Regions from separate parts of the Homo sapiens genome. Here regions 2, 3 and 4 are each linked to region 1. Evidence: fine-mapped expression QTL. A gene starts in region 1. Each other region holds a variant in brackets. All regions are shown on one strand. Distances are between the middles of the regions.

Region 1 (5,152 bases):
GGTTTTAGGAATAATCTAAAGATAGACATTTTTTTTTAGTGATGAATATGATTAAATTACAAACGCCCGTTTTCCCCTTAAAGACCAATAAATAATGTTTCAATTTTAAGCAATAAAAGGTCGAAAAAAACTCAAAATCAACAAGCTATTAATCTAGTCTTTATTACAAATGAAAGACGTCAAGGCCCATTTCTCATACGGACTGAGGTGGCAAATGGCAATCTCTTATGTCAAACTACAGTGATGAGACCACCTAATTATGGTTATATTTATAGATATCTGGATTTCATCATAATCAACCTCTCTCTTGCAAAGTGAGAAAAAGAAATGTCCACCAAATTAGTCCTGGTGACATAAGATAATGTCTGTCTAATTGATCACAGCATCCTCAAAGCCATTAGCTAGGACCCACGGAAAGAAAAACATTTCAGCTTCTCCACCTGACACCAAACATTCAACTTGCAGGGACCAACACCACTATCTAGAATGATCCCTATAGAACCTCCTTACTGAAGACCGATAAAATCCAGGGGAGAAGGGCGTGAACGGCATCCAAAATGAAGACCCCAAGAATTGTCCTCTATCATCAGGGCTAGGAGATGCAAGGAAGAGTTAAAATCCTGGCTATGTAAGTCAGCATCTCCATCTGAGCCTGGTGAGACCTGACCGAGGGCCCTGTGAGACTTTCAGATCCGCGGGGAAGCCACACTGTCCGGGATACTTTGAGTTTCTGATCTGTTTCCCACGGTCTGCCACATAGGAGTGTCCTCCGTATTTGGCAGTGGAGAGATAAGGATACAGAGAGATCCTGTGTGTGGGAGAGGAAGGGGTGTAAGAGAACGCATCAGAACGCCTCAGAGGTCCAGGAGAACTCCGTCTCCGGGCCTCTTCCTCGAAGTTGCAAACCTGGGTCTGTATCAGCAGGCAGGGCGGGAGGGGGTGGCTGGACGCCTCACTGCGTGCGCTCCCCGAGGCTGCTGTGACAATGGTAAGAAGATGGACCAGTGAACGGGAAACATGACGTGAGGGGGTCTTACTTTTGCAGCTCGCTGCCCAGGGCTGGTAGCCATAGTAGCCAGTGATGCGCAGGATCCGCTCCTCGATGGACGTGAGCCCCACCGGCCCGCTGGTGAGATCCTCCACGGAGCGCGACCATTTCAGATCCTCCTTAATCGCCTCGTCCACCACCAAGTACTTGAGCTGCCGGAGCTGGGGGCTGATGTCGGACAGTCTCCGGGGGCTGACGTCCGGTGACCTCCTCATGCCACTGCGGTCGCAGGCGCCACGGGCAGGTGGGTGGGCAGGGGGAGCATGGACAGAGAGGAGGGGATTCGTGAGGAGCAGATCCCAGGGCGAGAGCAAGAGCGCGGCCGGGGCCCTCCGGGGGCGAGCGCCGCGGCAGAGCCCGCGCTCCTCCCTTCCCGCCGCCACTCACCCACTTCCCCGGGCAGCTGTCCCCAGTGCCCTATCCTGGGCGTCTCGGGGCAGTGCGGGTTGGGGCGAGTGGCGAGGGAAAGAATGACTGAAACTTCCCGAGCAGCTCCACCGCGCGCGCCGCCCTTCCCCGAGCCTCAGACTGCCCAGTGTCCCAGCTGCAAAGGGCTACCCCGGCGCTCCGGCCTCCCGCCCGCCGGCTCGCTCACCCACGCCCGGGGCGCTACTCACACGGCAATGCTCTTGCCCCTGGGTGCGCCGCTGGGAAACTCTCGAATCCCCATAGGCAAAGACAGAGTGGGACCGGCAGCTCCCAGACTTGAGGCGGAGGGGCCGCGGGCCGGAGCTCCCTGCAGCCGCTAGCCTGGGAAGACTGGAGTGCGCTGCCCACCGAGGGTCTGCGCCGCGCCGGCCGCCCCGGGCCGCTTTGTGCGCGCCCGCGCGGTCTGTACCCGAGCGCCTCCGCGGCGTGCGGCACGATGCAGGCGCGGCGGTTCAGCCCGGTGACTCCAGGCCGGCCCGCGCGCTCGCCGCAACGACCCGGCAGCCGAGGCAGCGCCGCGCCCCACGCCCGTCACCGTCGCCGCCGCCCTAGCACACCGCAGGCGTGAGTCTCGCCGCGACCGGGAGAGCCCTCCCAGCTGTGCGCTCTCGAGGCACCTGGTCGGGCGGGGAGGCGTCGGGTCGGGGCGCACAGGGGCCAGGCGGGGGCGCTGCTGCCCACTTCCCGCCTCCCGGGCGTGCGCTCCGCCCCGGAGCCCGCACCTCGCGCCCGCGCTCCGCCTGGAAGCCTTGGGGCACCGGACGCGCTCCTCCACCCTTCTCTTTTGACTCAAACCCTGCCGCTCCCAGTTCAGTACTTTTCTCTCTCTCTCTCACACTCTCTCTCTCTCTCTCTCTCTCTCTCTCTCTCTCTCTCTCTATGTATATGTCTGTCTCTCTCTTTCTCTAAATTAGCAAAACTACTTGGAAAGAAAGAAACCTGGTTCCATGCTCAGCATGCCAAGTGAATAAATGGCGTTTCATAGGCAACGCTGAGACACAAAATGTATTATCTATTACGCTGTGGGGATCTCTCAGTCAGACCTGGTCCTCAGAGAGCTTACTTTCCCACTGATGATGCAATTACGAAATCAGTTCTCTCTTCATAGATTTCCATTTTAAAAGCTTCTCATCTTTTTCCTTACCACCCCACTGCCCCCGACGGCCGAAAGGCATTCTCTTCAGACTACCTAATCACCTTTCCTAATATTATTTTTCATCGGGGCAAATTTAGAAAAGATAGAAGTATGTGGAGAAGAAAATATCCATTATCCAGCCAAAAATGACGACTTTCAATTATGAACGTATTCTCTTCCAGGCTTTTTTCCAACGCAAAATACAGTTGTCACAAAAATCGGAATGAAATTGTACACACTACTTTATGTACTGCTTTTTTTATATTAAAATCATATTGTATAGCAGCAAACTATGAATAGAGGGGAACTTTCTCAACTTGAAAAAGAACATTTACAAAAGCGTACAGCTAACACCATGCTTAATGGTGAGAAACTAGAAGCTTTCCTGTTAAAATAAGGAACAGGGCAAGTATGTCTCTACTCAGCAATCCTTTTCAGCATCATACTGAAAGTCCCAGCTAATGAAATTAGACAAGAAAAGGAAATTAAAAGTATACGTATTGTGAAGGAAAAGGTAAAAGAAAACTGTCTTTGCAGCTGACATGACTGTTGATGTAGAAAAATTTCAATTGACAAAAAAACTCTCCTGTTACTAATAAGCAATTATGGTAAGATTGAAGGATACAAAATTAATGTACAAAAGTCAACTGCTTTTCTATATACTAGCAACGAACAATGGGAATTTGAAATTAAAACCACAATACTATTTATATTAGCACACCACTCAAATGAAATATTTAGGTACAAATCTAATAAATATGTACAATATCTATATGAGAAAAACTACAAAACTGTGATGAAAGAAATCAAAGAACTAAATAAATAGAGAGATATTTTATGTTCATGGATGGAAAAATTTAATATTGTTAAGATGTCAGTTCTTCCCAACTTCATCTATAGATTCAAAGTAATTCCAATCAGAATCCCAGGAGGTTATTTTGTGAATATCACAAACTGATTCTCAAGTTTATATGAAAAGGCAAAAGACCCATAATAGCCAACACAATATTAAAGGAGAAGAACAAAGTCTGAGGACTGATATTGCCCAACTTCAAGACTTACTATAGTTACAGTAATCAAGACAGTGTGGTATTGGTGAAAGAGCAGACAAATAGATTAATGGAACAGAATAGAGAGGCCAAGATAGACCCACACATAGAGTCAAGTGATCTTTGACAAAGGAGCAAAAGAAATCTAATGGAGAAAAGATCACCTTTTCAACAAATGGTGCTAGAACAACTAGACATCCAATCACAAAAAAAAAAAAGAAAGAAAGAGAGAAAAAAAGAAAAGAAGCTGGATACATAGATACAGACCTTACACCTTTCACAAAAATTAACTCAAAATAGATCATAGACCTAAATATAAAATGCAAAACTATAAAACTCTTAGAAGATAAAAAGGAGAAAACCTAGGTGACCTTGGGTTTGTAAATGACATTTTAGATACAACATCAAAGGCATGATCCATGAAAGTAAAAATTGGTATTGGACTTCGTTAAGATTAATAACTTCTGCTCTACAAAAGACACTGTTAAAACAATGGGAAGAAAAGCTACAGACCAATAGAAAATATGTCAAATCATATACATGATTAAGAACTGTAATAAAAAATAAGAATAATTAGAACTCAACAATAAGAAAATGATCCCAATTAAAAAATTGGCAAAACAGCTGAACAAACATATCAATAGAGATGATATACAGATGGTAAATCAGCACATGAAAAGATGCTCCACATCATACATCATTAGGGAATTCCAAATTAAGACAAAAAAGATGTATTGCTATACACCTACTAGAATGAATAAAATCCCAAACGCTGACAACATCAAATGCTGGCAGGATGTGGAACAGCAAGAAGTCTCTCATTCATTGCTGGTGGGAATGCAAAATGGTACAGCACTTTGGTAGACAGTTTGAGTTCCTTACAAAATTAATCATACTGTTACCATGCAACCCATCAGTCATGCTCCTTGATATTTACCTGGATGAGTTCAAAACTTAAGTCCCCACAAAAATCTGCACACAAATGTTTATAGGAACTTTTTTCATGATTGCCAAGATGTCCTTCAGTAGCTGAATGAATAAACATACTGTGGTACATCCATACAAAAGAATATTCCGTTCAGTGATAAAATGAGCTATCAAGCTGCAAAAAGACATGAAGGAAATTGAAAACATATTGCTAAGTGAAAGAAACCGGTCTGAGAGAGGCAAAACTATGGAGATAGTTTAAAGATCACTGGTTCCCAATGGTTGGGGAGAGGATGGGATGAACAGGCAGAACACAGAGGATTTTTAGGGCAGTGGGTTGATTTTGTATAGTACTGTAATGGTAGATATATATCATTATACATATGTCAAAACTCAGTGGATGCACAACCCTAAGAGTTAACCCCAATGTAAACTATAGACTTTGGGTGATAGTGATGTGTCAATGTTGGCTCATTATTTGTAACGAATGTACCACTGGTGCAGGATGTTGACGTGGGTGGAGAGAAGCTGTGGGTGTGTGACAGGGGGAAGGTATTTAAAAAC
Region 2 (5,152 bases), 32 kb before region 1:
GTATTTATTTATTTAAGTTAGTGTTCTAAGAGCTGACTACCACTTGCAGATCTTGGCAACCTGAAAGAACCAGAAGCATCATAACAAGGATTGGGAAGAATGGATATGCTGGCAGTTCCAAACCCTATGATGGATAATGGAGACTGGGTGCTTAGGGACCCAGTAATCTACTAATAGTTAAGCCGAACGGATGCTTTTTAGTCCTCATCTTCCTTGACTGCAGTGTTGCAGTTTGACATTGTTAACCAATACTGCTTTCTGATAAGTTTTTCCTTTCCTCACTTCTATGACTCAATTTCTTGTATTTGCTTTCCTTTCCGATCATTCAGTTCCCTAGACTAGTTCCTCTGTGTCTATCCATCCACCCATCTTTCCATCCATCCACCTATACTTCCATTCATCCATCCATCCATCCATCCATTCATCCATCCATCCATCCATCCATCCACCCACCAATCCATCCCTCCATCCTTCCATCCATCCATCCATCCATCTATCCATCCATCTGTCCATCCATTGTTAGCTCTTCGTCTTCTCACTGACCTTAGGTATAATTACCTTTTTCCTTAGGTATAATGACCCTTGTGTTGTTCTCTAGCATCCATCCCTTTGATATTAGAATCCCAAAATCCATTTGAAGGGAAATTTCCACTGTGTACAACGTCAGAAGGCAATATTCTTAGGTTGCCTCTCACTGCAGCTTCCTAAGCCAAGGGTATATGATTCTTCAACATTCTACCTCCTAGGAGAGCCACAGAAAGACCATATAACCCGGGTTCAGCCAATCAGATTCCTGTAAATCTTAAGCCAGTACAATGAAGACAGAGGGACAAATTGAAAACTAGCTTTCACAGCTGCAGGCTTTCTTTTGAGGGATGAGCTTTATTGTATTCTCTGCTTGCTAGTATCTGGGGCCCCCACATCATGCCCACTTTTTAGGTCTGGCCATCTATTCTCCTATTGTTTCTGTGAATTTTTAGTTACTTCCAGAAATTTATTTTTTTGCCTATGATGAAAACATTGAATGTCTGTTGCTTTCAACCAAGAACCCCAACTAATCAATGGGGGCAATGGCATTGATTCAAGGCTTCACCTGTCTTCTGTCACCTATAATTTAATGACTATTGTCAACCCAATCTTCTCTCCTGAATTCTGCAAACTACTTTCAACTAATTAACGGACATCACTACCTGAACATTAACAAGTCACCTGAGTCAGAAATTTGAACATCATCCTCCACTCACCCCTCTCCCGCACTCACCAACACTATCGAACTCTGTCTCCCATCCTTGCCCCCTGACTATCCTTGCTTCTATCTCACCTTCTGCATCCCCACTGACCCAGCCTTAGTTGTGACCTTCATCTTCTTTTGCTAAATTATAGCATTAGCTTCCTAACCAGGCAATGCTTTCAGTCCCTTCTCCGTTTTGTTTCAGAGTATATTTTTCAAAATGAAAATTCAATCCCATCACTTCCCTTTTTCAAATACTTCAAAGGTTCTTCTTTGTCTACAAATTTGCCCTTCCAAAACATCAAACAACTCCAGTGGGGCACTTTAGTACTAAAATAAAATAACTGATGTCTCAGGATTCATAGGAAAAGTCCTCATTTTGCTTATTTTGGGCAAGCATAAACAGAGGGATAATCAGATGGCTGGATTATCTTTACTGGTCTCTGCAGGGGCAGAAGTCTTCAGACAGGCAGCCTTGGACAATTTTTCTCTTGACTTTAAAACAAAAGGTGTATCACATCTTGATTTTAACAGAATGGATATCCCAAATACTCTTCATCCATTTAATTTGCATTCAGCTACTTTTTGTATCCTGATCTTTATCAAAGATATCATTTTCTAAATTGCCCTTAATCTCCTTTTTAAAATCTAGGTTCTCACATGAGCAGCACCCTAATTTACCATGAGGCTTTTCTTCTGTCTTTCATTACATTAAGGTTCAGTTCTTCTTGATTTTCCCCTTTCTATGAAACTTGAGGAAGTATCTTATTTTGATGCTGGTGCCAAGTGTTGTGAACTGCTAGATTCATGGGGGTAGATGGGAGTGGAAGCAGGGATGGTAAAATGCTGACTGGCAAGTCTTGTTATCACAAAATGTCAGAGCCTGTAAGAAGACAGAGGTGGCCAGATGCAGTGGTCACGCCTGTAATCTCAACACTTTGGGAGGCCAAGGCAGGAAGATCACTTAAGTTCAGGAGTTCGAGACCAGCCTAGGCAACACAAGGAGGCCCCGTCTCTACAAAACATTTCTGAAAAATCAGCCCAGCATGGTGGCACACACCTGCAGTCCCAGGTACTTGGGAAGCTGAGGTGGGAGGACTGCTTAAGCCTGGGAGGTCAAGGCTGCAGTGAACCATGATCACACCACTGCACTTCAGCTTGGGCGACATAGCAAGACCCTGTCTCAAAAAAAGAAGAAGGAGAAGGAGATGGAGAAAAAGAAGAAGGGGAAGAAAGGAGGAGGAGAAGAGGAAGAAGAAGAAGAATGAGGAGGAGGAGGAGAGGAAGAAGACAGGGAAGAAGAGGAGGAGGAAGAGGAAGGAGGAGAAGAAGAAGAAAGAGGAGGAGGAGGAGGAAGAAGGAGGAGGAGGAG[GAGA/A]ACAAGAAGGTGAAAGAGGCACTGGATAGGATTCAAGAAGGGAAGCATCAAATGTTCCCCACTACCCTCTTGTTCTGAGATGTAGGTTTTTATAATGACAGGCACAGGCTATAAGAAACAGAGAGACGATATTATGATACAGACAGGATAGTATCCTAGAAAAACTTATCCAGTAAAAGTTTACTTGTTGAACTGAGCTGGAGATGTCACTCTGTCTGCTGCTCTCCTTTTATAAACAATTACCAAAATATCAATAACATCTCCTTTCTTCCTATCTTCCTTTTCTATCTTCACTAGGCTAACCTGCAACCCTGGGGGGGCCATGGCTACTGAAAAGGAATGATCTCAGATAGGTAATAATATTTACCTCTTCTTCTCTGGTCTTTTTACCAGCACCAAAAACAAATACATAGTTAACACTACTTAAAACCTACAACCAAATTCTACTTCTGCTTAGGATGCAGAAAGACCCAAGAGAAAATTACAAGAGAAAGCTGGACAGTCAACAGAATTATGTTATTTATTGAGCCCATCAAGAGCTGAGGTTGTTGAAAGGCAAACAAACTGAATTCAAGTGCCAAGCACTCCTGAGTTAATATGAAACACACCGTCTGCTTTACCTTTAGCAGAGGATGAATGAAAAAGGAGGCATCCATACCAATGAGTAACAAGGAATCAGCTACATTTTAAATGAATCCTTAAAGGCAAAATATAGAGTAACGTGTCAATTTGGAATAGGTGGATGTCTCAGGCACAGGGAAGCTTGCACTCGGGCTCAAGTTCTTACCCCTGAGCCTCCACTAAGTAGCTCATGAGAGGAACTGGGGCAGGGCAAGAGACAGAAAGAGCCTCTCAAGGCAACATAAGCTTGTGGGAGGTGATCAGATAGTTGCTGCTGGGGACAGGCATAAAGCCCTGCCTACTTTCTCAACCCTTACAGAAAGCAAAAGTCTTAAGTCACTGGACAGCAAACTCCGTCAACCTAGGGCCAAGGAAAAAAAAATCGGTTGCTTCTGGGTTAGGAGTAGGATAAACTTCAGCTCACTTTGAGGACAATATAGGAAGTGCCCTGCCTCCAGGATACAGGCAAAGGTCAATTGCTGCTGGAGGAAAGTTAGAAGAGGCAGTCAAACACACTCAAACCTAAATCAATTCCCAGCTAGACTGACTCAACCTTCCACTAATGGCCTGACACAAAAAGATGTGTGTCCACTTTTGGATATCAATAATGTATGGCTCAGTCTCTTCTGTTCTTTTCCACACAATAGCCAGTATTCAATCATGTATTTTCAGGTATGCAAAAAAAAAAAAAAAAAAAAAAAAAAAAGGGCAAGGAAAACCCAGCTCATTGTGAAGAAATAAAGCCATCAATAGAACCAGATGCAGAGACAACCTGGTTTCACCAGAATGAAACTTTAAAATAATCATGACTGAAATGTTAAGGTATCTAGTGGAAAAGCAAGTAAACATACATAACATATGGGAATTTCAGCACAGAGATCTTGCCTGGAAGTCAGCTCTTGCAAAGGGATATTAAAATTACAAAGAAAACCTAAAGCTTCCAAGAAGCATGATAAGATCCCATTTTTCACATGATACACTGATTAGAATGTATGTAAGCTATCTTGATCATCCTGGCAGAATACCAGGCTAGACACAGCTTCTTTGTAAAAGACAGGATCCACTTAGATTTTCATTGAAACATTGTTTATCTGCATAGGGAGCTACCTTTGCTTCAGAGGGAAAGCCAGTGGCTTTTTTGATTATTTTAAAATTAATAAGATCTCCTGTATAGTGGTATCTGAAAAAATCACTTACATGCCAGTAATATTCTGTTTCTTGCTCTAGATGCAGTAAAGAAAGGTATATTCATTTTGTAATAATTCATCAAGCTGTACACTTATAATTAACATTCATTTCATTTTGGATATTTTACTTCAACAAGAAGTGTATTTTTAAGACAGCTCATTAAAATATCTCTGTAATAATTGATTTTTTTCTTGTCTAATGGTAATTTGTAAAACAAGATAAATGCACATGTAACTCAATAGTATAACCCATCTAGCTGACTAGTTATTATCAGGGAAATTATTTGCTTTACATGGGTGTATTCGTGAAGGTTGATTTTAAGAATAAGGAATTCATACATATAGAAAAAACCTAGAAACAAATGTAATGGCAACTCAAGCAGCAAATTAATGTCTTAGAAAGTGGGGAAGTGTCTTAGAAAATGAGGAACTGAATATTAACCCCTGGGGCACTCAGTTTCCCCTAAAACCTCACTTAAGGAAGCTTACCTGAATAAAGGCCACTTTTAATGTGTAGGATAAAATATGCATCCGGTTCATAGCCTGAATACTTCTGAACCTAAAGACATACTCTGAATTCACTTTGAAGAATAACTGATATCCTATGCTATCCTTAGCAGCATGTGAAAAACTCTGAGCAAGTTATGCAATCATGTTTCAAATGGAATAAAGCACTTCCCGCTAAACTCTAGACTATTTGTGCTAATAGAGTAGAAAACAAAGAGGAGTGAATAGCCT
Region 3 (5,152 bases), 340 kb before region 1:
AACAATGCACCAGCCAACTGACCCATGAAACAATGGACCAGCCAACCAACCCACTGAACAATGAACCAGCCAACCAACCCACCAAACAATGGACCAGCCAACCGACCCACCAAACAATGGACCAGCCAACCAACCCACTGAACAATGGACCAGCCAACCGACCCACAGAACAACTGACCAGCCAACCAGCCCCCCAAACAATGGACCAGCCAACCAACCTACTGAACAATAGACCAGCCATTCAACCCACCAAACAATGGACCAGCCAATCAACCCACTGAACAACGAACCAGGCAACCAACCCACTGAACAATGGACCATCCAATCAACCTACTGAACAATGGACCAGCCAAGCAATCCACCAAGCAATGGACCAACCAACCAACCAACCCACCAAACAATGGACCAACCAACCAACCCACCAAACAATGGACCAGCCAACCAACCCACCTAAAAATGGACCAGCCAACCAACCTACCGAACAATGGAACAGCCAACCAAACTATCAAACAATGGACCAGCCAATCAACTGACCAACCCAACAATCAAATGACAAAGTTTAAAACCATTGCTCTATTATACACATATGCACACATAGACACATGCATACATGCACCCATGCATTCACATAATTCCACTACTCCCTGCCACACAGAGTTTCTCTTCTTTTTTTGTTTCAAGCACCTAGCACCCAACCTTCCCATACAACTTGGGCTTGGAACTATTTAAGACACCATTGCTGGTGCTCAAGCTCCCACCTGTTTGGTTTCACACCTTGGTTTCCAGGTTTCCAGCCCCATGAACTGGTAACTGGGTCTTGAACTTGGCTGTGGTTTCTGCTATTTTGAGACCATCACACCCTGCCGTGTCTGCCACCTCCTCTGTGCTGTGCCTGGCTCCTAGGACAGCACCATGGTCTGGCCTTACCCCCGACCGACACCATCTGACTTGAACACATACAGCAGCCGACAGGGCCTCCCAATTCTCAGAGCACTCAACCTACAGAGCCACAATAGCACTCTGCTCTGCTGTTCTCACCACTTCTGGGAGTGATTTCTTATTCATGCCTTAACTCAGCATATGGCTGTTTCTGTTTTACGTGTGGTTTTTATTAATGCTAGGTCCCCTGGCAGTTCAGTGCATAAAAGGATGTGACTTGGGTTATACATGACTGTGTTGTCAGTGGCCTGCATTACTGTACTTCTTGGGCACTATTTGCATAAAAATACTTCACCTATTCAGAAGGGGAAAACATCAGTATGGAAAAAGGAATCCAGAAGATTCATGGACAGAAAACACATCGTGTGTTTGCTCTTATCATTTGGCAGCTCCAGAGTAGTTTTCCACTCTCTGAATAATTTATTATCACTTTTATTAGTCCTCTCTATCCAGGTTGATATTATTTTCTGCTTTACTGATACAGGCCCTGCTTCTCAGAGAAAGGAGACAGCAGATGCTGCAGCTGAAGTCTGGGGGAACCTGGGTAGGTCCCAGGGTGTCTAGAAGGGCTTGAAGCTAGACCAGCTGCACCCAAAAGCTTGGGGGTAAATCAGGGTCCTGATTGCTCTCTGGGGTCAGGTTAGAGAAAGTGAACTGCTGCTGCCCTGGTAGAATTCTCCATCTGAGCCACTCCTCCTGCCTCCCAAACCCCAAGCCTCTGCCACTGGCAGCCTTTCCTAGCCCAGTAACACATCTTCCTAACAGAGGCCAGTGTACTACTCTCTCTAAACACCACCTTTGCTTCAGATGCTGTGGAAGATAATATTTTCCAAAGGTGGTAGCAGCAATACCTCCCATTCCATGTACTCTTCCCCGAGATGATCTTGCCACCCTCCAGTCAAGAGGCAAAGTTGATGTCCCCCTCCCCCTTGAAACTGGGCAGGCTCGTAACTGCCTTGACATAAACTATGGTGGAAGTGACACTATGTGACTTTGAGGCTAGGTCCTAAAAGGAATGGAGTTTCTGCTGTGTGTCCACTGATCCCTCTGGGGCTCTGAGCTGCAACCATGAACGCAGTGTGATTACCACGGACCACCCTCCTGTGAGGAAGCCCAGGCCATCAGAAGAGGCCAAGTGTAGACCCTCAGGTTGACAGCTCCAGCTTAGGTGGCCCATGACAACCAGCATCAACTTCCAGACATTGGAGGAAGACAACAGATGTGCCTAGCCCCCAGCTGTTGAGTTGCCCCCTCCAGCACACGCTCTAAGCATCATGGAGCAGGGGAAAAGCCATCCCTTGATGCCAACAAAGGAGTTGTTAATGCCATTAAGGTTCAGATTAGTTTGTTAAAGAGTAATAGTAACTGAAACAGATGTAGGTTCTCAAATCCCATAGCAGGAAGCAATCCCATTGCTGGGTATTTATCCAAAGGAAAATAAATCAGTATCTCAAAGGGATACCTGCACTCACATGTTTATCACAGCACTATTCACAACAGCCAAGATATGGAATCAACTTATGTGTCCATCAATGGACAAATGGATAAAGAAAATGTGGCATATATACACAATGGAATACCATTCCGCTGTAAAAAGGAATGAAATCATGTCATTTGCAGCAACATGGATGGAACTGGAGGTCATTCTGTTAATTGAAATAATCCAGGCACAGAAAGAGAAATACTGCATGTTCTCACTCATGCAGGAGCTAAAAACACTTGATCTCAAGGACACAGAGAACAGAATAATAGTACCAGAGACTGGGAAAGGTAGGTGGTGGTAGAGGGTAGGAGTGAAGTGAAGTTGGTTAATGGGGACAAACATACAGTTAGATAGAAGAAAAGAGTACTAAGGAAAAAGACTAGGGTGACGATGCTTAGCAAACAATATTTTGTGTATTTCAAACTAATGAGAAGAGAGGACATGAAATGATATCAATGCATAAAAATGACAAATACTCAAAGTGATGGAAACCCCCAATAGTGACTTGATCATTACATAGTCTATGCATGTAAAAAACACATTTACACATAATATATATTTTATATTGATAAAAAAGTTAGCAGGACTTTAAAGACCCTAAATGCACAAATCCTCTAAATTCTTCTCTTCCAGGACTCAGTGAGCTT[T/A]AGGAACTTGTGAAATTCTAGCCAGTATAAATGTGGAATTGAAACTTCCTGAAGATGGGTTTTTACTCTCAGTTCAATCAGATGGCATAATGGAACTTCCCCTCTGCTAGTCTACTAATTTCAGACCTGACTAATTTCCAAAAAAAAAAAAAAGTGATAATCAAGCACTTCTTTTTCTAAAACTTACTTTGTCATTCAAGGGCTCTTTCTGAATAGGATTAGTTTATCATTCTGGATGATAGAGGAACAGCTTCTTATAAGGACAGAGGGAAATGATTCCTGCATTGCTCCTTGGAGACTGCCTGCCGAGAGCTGATCTTAGCAAGTCTACTCTGATTGTGAACATGATATTGATATCACCACCACTGCCCATGGATAGTTTCTTCCTTCCCCCAACCCCTTTCTACCAGCACCCCACCGGGCACTGTGCAAGGTGCTGGGGACATGCAGGTGAGCAAGACGGACATGATCCCTGTCCTTGTGGTGTTCAAAGATTGACATTTTCTGTCCAGATACTCTTTAAAAATTTTTATTATATTCAGAATAAAAATAAAGCCACATGGAAGCTTTTGGCCAATAAGGATATCTAAGTATGCATGGTAGAGGATGTAGGCTCTCAGACTGACTCCAACTCTGAGCTTGTGGGGAGAGATGGAGATCATACTAATCAATGTCATGCTAGCTGTTATGCCAAACTCTTCTGTTCAGAGGCTTGGCACACAGAAGTTTAGTTTTGATTCATGTTACTGGTTGACAGGTGTCATTTCACCCGTTGGTGAGCCTTCTCCCACCTTGCAGCTATGCAATCCCTTGAAGCCTGGGGATTCTGTGATGTGGCCAGTGGAACAGGGAAGTGGAGGAAAATGCCCATCTGCTTATTATCTGTCTTGGTTGACTGCTAGCCATTTGGAGGGAAGTCACTTAGCCCAAGTTAGATGCCAGGGGAGGCTGGGAGATGTAGTAGTCTCTGGCTGCACAGCCCTCCCTGCAGCAACCCTGCACTGTAGCAGGAGCAGGGATCTTGGCTTCAGAGTCACCCATCTCTGTCTCAGAATGATGTGGTTTTGCAAAGTCAAACGGGACACCAGTGGCTTGCTTAGGACTCCTGAGAGCTGGGGGCTTGGCCAGGAAACCTAGAAGGTGCCAACCTTCCTCTTTAGAGAAGATCTATTACACCTCCTACATCCTCTAAAAGGATTCTGCAAAATGCACGTTTACATGTGTCCCTCAATCTACTTTGTGAATTCCCTCCACTTGCTACATGCGAGAAAACATCTTTACCAAGAGACAAAGGCACTTTCTAAGCTGGGCATAAATACACCAACTTTTGTCCAACTTTAATAACAGTCGGTTATCTAATAATAAAGTGTTATTGGGGATACGCAGGTGAGCATACCCCCAGTAACACTTTATTATTTTTTTTTGAGGCGGAGTCTCACTCTGTCGCCCAGGCTAGAGTGCAGTGGCGTGATCTCTGCAACCTCTGTCTCCCAGGTTCAAGTGATTCTCGTGCCTCAACCTCCCGAGTAGCTGGAATTACAGGTGTGCACCACCACGCCCAGCTAATTTTTTTGTATTGTTAGTAGAGACAGGGTTTCACCATGTTGGACAGGCTGGTCTTGAACTCCTGACCTCAAATGATCTGCCTGCCTTGGCCTCTCAAAGTGCTGGGATTACAGGCATGAGCTACCACACCCGGCCAAAACAAAACACTTTTAACCAATAAGCATTTGGAAGACCCATTCCCCCTACTCCCCCACTAATTCATAGTAAAATACTGATAAGCCTGTCTCCATTTTGTTGGTGAAACACTTAAAGTCTTTCTTTGACAAAGTTCTCTTCTGTTTTTCCCTGAGAAACATGTAGCAAAATAATGCTATCTAGTGTTTCTAATGATGTGTTCCTGCAACAAGGGAGCTTTAATATCCAGTGCTTTTAATTTATTTTGTCATAAATTAATAAAGTATATATGATTGAGAGTAACTCATTAAATGTAAGTGTCATAAAATAAGGCACTTAGGTAAGAAAAGCGTGAAATGCTTCTGATGCACTCCTGAATGTTACATTAAGTACATAAATCATC
Region 4 (5,152 bases), 310 kb before region 1:
ACACACACGTATGAGCATGTACACATGAGCACACACACACACACACCCCTGAAATGAAAGCATCTTGGATCCACTCTGTCTCTTATTACATTTGATAGACAGTGGCAGTTTTTATTCTATTCTAATTCCTTTGATAAGAAATACTTATTGCGACTGATGAAAGAGATTTCATAACCCAGTTTGAACACCACTGCTGCCCATGACCGTCTTTTCTCAGTTTCGGATGGTGTTTTCTTCTCTTCTCTGGCTCCCCCTGTTTCAATCCTGTCTTCCGAGTCCAGCGTTCAGGATGCCTCAGCATCTGCCCATGGTCTAGCTTAACCTCCCCTCCTCCTGCTTCTTCTGATCACTACGCTCTGGCCCAGTAGACTGCCTGCTGGTCTCCCAGCGCCACCCTCTCCTAGCTCTGCGCCTTCGTCTGTGGCTCCCTCTGTCAGGAAATGCTGTGTTCTCACCTCCCACCTCTGACAGCCCAGGGCAGAGGCAAACTCCTCTACCATGCCATCCCGACCGTGCTTCCAGGAAAAGCAGTTCCAATAAATGTTTAGGCCGTCACCTGGAGTGTGGTGACAAGAAGAATTCTGAGGCCACATCCAGGCTCAGCAGGAAAGAGTATCCTGTCAGATCAGGTCATTTTGGCGAAGAAGGGGGTAATGACGGCAAGCAAGAGTGCTGCGCAGGGGCCATCTGCGTCCCAGCCAGAACTGAGTTCACCCTCAGCTGAAATGCAACATTTACTTTATACTTCTTCCATAGAATCAAAAACATTACATTTCAGCATGCATTCTTTATTGGTATGCCTTTCTGACATTCCTCACTCGATTGGAAGCTCTGTTGGATCAAGGATTATGTTTCACTCCTCTTAGAATCCTCCCAAACATCTGGTTCATTCTCTTGCGTATATTAGGTAAAATATTTGATCACTACATGAATGACTTTTGCCACTGAAGTTTCAGACCTAGAGCTAGCCAATCAGGGAAATATTTTGGGTTTGGGGAAACTCTTTGGCAGTATACTTCTCAAGAATCCTCTTGGACTGGGCCAGCATCCTGGGTCTTTATATACTATTAATTGAGCATTCCAGGATAACCGTCTTATCCTGTTGACAGGAACAAGGTAGTCAGACCTACTCTGGGGGCAGCTGAGATCACCCAACACTCCCAAAGGAGAGGCACTAAGAATATGGCACACAGCCATGGGGCCTATGAACCCCCCATGGGGGTCCCAACCACTGAGTTATATTAGTTATATTACAGTGGGAGCTTTTTTTTTTTTTTTTTTTTTGAGATGGAGTCTCTCTATGTCACCAGGTCACCAGGCTGGCGTGCAGTGGCATGATCTGGGCTCACTGCAACTTCCGCCTCCTGGGTTCAAGTGATTCTCCTGCCTCAGCCTCCCAAGTAGCTGGGACTGCAGGTGCACGCCACCATGTCCAGCTAATTTTTGTATTTTTAGTAGTGACAGGGTTTCACCATGTTGGCTAGGATGGTCTTGCTCTCTTGACCTCATGATCCACCCACCTCGGCCTCCCAAACTGCTGGAATTACATACAATGGGAGCTTTAGGGAGCATTTACTGAGCATCTACAAAGTGCCATGAGCTGATATAATTCTCTCTCCTACTCAAATGAAATGCAGTTGTGCAAAGGTCTTGCAACATTTGCAGCCAGGTAGATATAGATTTGAAGCCTGGGATCCTTGCTTTCTAATTACAGTTCCTTCGTGAATGAGTTTTCTGAGCCTCAGTTTCCTTATCTATAAAGTTGGATAACAATACTTACCCTTGCTTAGGGAAAAAATAGAGATAATGGAACAATCTCTCCTAGCATAGTACCTGCAATATAGGAGGCATTCATTAGCAAAAACTATTATTTGAGTATTAAGAGCAAGATGTCATCACCCCTCCTTTCCTAGGACGGAACTGATTCCTGGAGAGCTTTATTCATTAGCCAGAAATCACTCACCTAGCATGACAGCTGGATAGACCCAGTCCATCTAATTCCAAAGCCCTCACCCTTTCCACAACACTA[C/T]TTGCTGCACGCCTCTTGGGGGAATTCATTGTACTGTTCTCAATGATTAATCCCTATTGAATGTAATTTCACTGAACATGAATGAGTTGATTGTGAGTAGAGCTGATCCCAGTAAACACTAGTCTATTAGAGATGTGCTACTGACCAATGCTCTGCTTCTGAAAGGAAAGCCAAGCAAAGGATCTGTGAAAACAAGGTATGTTTTTAGACATGACAGATGCCATCAATCTCGCCAGAACACACTTTTCAAACCTTAACCCCTATCTAAGGCCCAGCCCCACTCTCCTCATGCTTCTGGGCTGAGCCCTAGCATCCATGTTCTCTCTGCCTGAAACTGCCTCTCCTCCCCTCTGCACCAACAAGCTTTCTCATATCCCCCCAGCCTCAGCTGTGATGCCTCATAAGGCCTCCTCCTCAGGAAGGCCCCCTCCTTAGAATGGCTCCATCTTAGAAAGGCCTGTTCCTCAGGAATATCTCCTCAGAAAGGCCTCTTCCTGAGGAAGGCTTCCTTCTTAGATGGCCTCTTCCTCAAAAAGGCCCTTTTGTTAGAATGGCCTCCTCCTCAGAGATCTTTCTGAGGAGGCTTCCCCGGCAAGGCCTTCTCCTTAGAAGCCCTCCTTCTCAGAAAAGCCTCCTCTTCTTAGGAATATCTTCTCCTCAGAAAGGCCTCTTCTTAGAAAGGCCTCCTTCTCAGAAAGGCCTTCCCCTCAGAAAGGCCCCCCTCAGAAAGTATTCCTCTGTAGAAACCCTCCTCCTCATGAAGGCCTCCTCCTCAGGAACACCTCCTCAGATTGCTCAACTCTCAGTGTCCCCGTGACACCTTGCTTTTCAGTTCGATACCAGAACTTACTACTTTGTATTTGATAATTTATCTATCTATCTGTATGTCTCTTCCCCTCTAGACTAAAACGTCCTTAAGAGAATGAAGCTAGAATTGTTCCTTTTTGCCTTTCCAGGGCCTTGCTAAATTGTCACAGGACACAGAGTAGGGTTGGATGAAGTATTTGTTGAGTAAATGAAGTCATCTTGCCCATCTTCCTGTGTTTGAGTTTAACCAAGCTTTGCCTTTTCTATTTTGGTTTTATATGTACCACATGCTGGTGCCTTCTTGCCTCCCCTTAGATGACACACTCTGCAAGCTAATAAATATTCCTCGCTGGCTGCATTCCCTCCCTGTAGCCTGTCTGCCATCCATACAGAAACACCCACAGCATGGGGACCACCTTGCCCTGTGCATTCAAGTTAAAATGAAATGATTCAACACTTCCAAAACCAGCACATAAGATGCAAATGGTTTCCAAAAAATAGACCAAAAGCCAAACTGAATAAAAACACCAAGGAAAAAAACTAGGCAGAGAGAAAGAGCTATATGTGAGCCAGGCATACCAAGAGCAGGTTTTATGAGGCCCCGAGGGGCAGAATTTTGCATGGGATACTTGTAGGTATCCCACGAAAAATGCAACTGGGGGCTTGCCAGGCATTTTCAGCTACCTCTACCTTATTGCATCTCCTCACAGCCTGCTGAAGTAGGTTGTTCCTTCTCTTTTACGTTTGCGGAAACTGAGGCTGTGTTCGTGATTTACACAAATCCAACTGGAAAAGGGGCAGGGCCCAGTCTTGATCCTCAATCTCACCATTTCTTAGTTCACTATACATTTCCGTTATCCACAGGCATTTATGAGGAAATGCTAGTTCCAAAGCCAAGCCCGTGGCGAGGCAGCTGCTGGCGTTAGCAGGTGCAGGAGACTCAAAGCTCTTTTGGCAGCAGCCCTAAGGGACTTTTTGGGGGGTTGGTGGTTAGTGGGAGATAATTTTCACTTTCATTCCCTGAAGGCAACCTCCAGGCTTGGCCATAGGGAAGTACCTGTGCCTCGCATGCCACTCACTGCCTCCTGCAGCACCTCTGAGGCCACAGCACCCAGTTCAGGTAGCCCCACCATCCGCGTCCTGCCCCACTTCCAGTGCAGTTCGAACCTGTCCTGCCTAAGGTGGGCTGGGAGTTTCCCAGGGAGACCCCCTGCTGCTGGAGAGCAGAACCAATCTGTCCTACTAGGAGGTAGGAGTGGGCAGCTTCCCATGAGGACCCTATGAGTGAGCAGACACTCACTCCCTGCTTCCCTCAGAGAAATAAATGGCCAATCCTTCCCTCCCCAATTCACACATGCATGTGGGCAATGTCTGGGTAGGCTTAGAAATACAAACACCCCTGGAAGAGGTAGCACTTGCACTAAACTCAGGTGTAGATGGCTGATATCAAGTCATTCCTGAGGTTGGGATGGAGGAGAGAAGAAGACAGCCACAAGAAGGAAAAAAACCCAACCTCCTAAAGATAGAAAATGTTGAGAAATAGGTAAGTAGTTGCAGTTCAGTGCAAACTGATGTTCTGGAAAAAATGCTTGAGCTTTGGATCGGACAGCCCAGGATTCCATTCCTGCTTCACCACCTACCAACTGTGGGTCTAGGACACGTTAACCCACCTTGCTGGGCCTCACAGTGCTCCTCAGTAGGATGGGGATCACAGTACTAGGGCAGCTGCAGGCAGGCCTGTGTGGACAGCTAAGCTTGGGATATACAATTACCAAGCCAGCCTCTGTCTTGTCCTCGCTGGTTCTGAGATTCATTGTAATAAACAAGAAGTCACGAGTGGGAAGCAGGGTCAACAGTAGCCTAGAGAAGTCCAGGCTTCCTGGGAAGGGCAGAAGCCAGGCTCTGTCGGAGCCCATGGCTGCCCCTCATTCACCGCTGATGCTCATGGGCTCTGTTAGCTCAGCACAAGCAAAAGCCTAGAGGGGAGCTCCTGGGACCCAGGGGATGGTCTGTCTGCCTCACCTGGCCAAGGTGGCTTGCTCCTGGCAGAGGGAGTTAGTCATTCCACCTCTGCCTCCTGGGAGGAGGAGTTAAGAACTGGGACTGGCCCTCTGCCCCCCTTCTCCATTGGAAAGCAAGGCCCCTTAGGCCAGCAGAAGCCAGCTGTGTCTGAGGAAGCTCTCCTCGGTGGGCTGCTTCTTCCCCTGTCCTCTCGCTCACATTTCCTGGGTGGGAGCAGTTCCAGGCAGAAAGGACAACACGGGGAGGAGGACACCTTCTGGGGGCCTCTCACAGCCCTTCCAATCCCTCTCCAGG

The links. PIP is the estimated chance that this variant, and not a neighbour inherited with it, causes the effect.
Region 2: its variant is the best candidate, but not a certain one, in a credible set for the expression of SLC35F3 in lung (TOPMed, PIP 0.82).
Region 3: its variant is the best candidate, but not a certain one, in a credible set for the expression of SLC35F3 in whole blood (INTERVAL, PIP 0.81).
Region 4: its variant is the best candidate, but not a certain one, in a credible set for the expression of SLC35F3 in whole blood (TOPMed, PIP 0.86).

The regions. Positions count from the first base shown.
Region 1 is chr1:233,901,644-233,906,795 of GRCh38, reverse strand. It overlaps SLC35F3 (solute carrier family 35 member F3), which reads right to left and starts at 2,120. Exons shown (of 8, transcript NM_173508.4): 1 at 1,666-2,120; 2 at 1,038-1,267. The coding sequence starts at 1,718.
Region 2 is chr1:233,933,971-233,939,122 of GRCh38, reverse strand. The region is part of intron 2 of SLC35F3 (solute carrier family 35 member F3); the gene reads right to left. Among named protein-coding and RNA genes, the nearest start is that of SLC35F3, 32 kb to the right of the region's middle. The variant GAGA/A (reference allele first, on the strand shown) is at 2,604.
Region 3 is chr1:234,242,689-234,247,840 of GRCh38, reverse strand. The region is part of intron 3 of SLC35F3 (solute carrier family 35 member F3); the gene reads right to left. Among named protein-coding and RNA genes, the nearest start is that of SLC35F3-AS1, 28 kb to the left of the region's middle. RefSeq lists an enhancer at 878-1,017. The variant T/A (reference allele first, on the strand shown) is at 3,070.
Region 4 is chr1:234,215,188-234,220,339 of GRCh38, reverse strand. The region is part of intron 2 of SLC35F3 (solute carrier family 35 member F3); the gene reads right to left. Among named protein-coding and RNA genes, the nearest start is that of SLC35F3-AS1, 55 kb to the left of the region's middle. RefSeq lists an enhancer at 3,944-4,033. The variant C/T (reference allele first, on the strand shown) is at 2,030.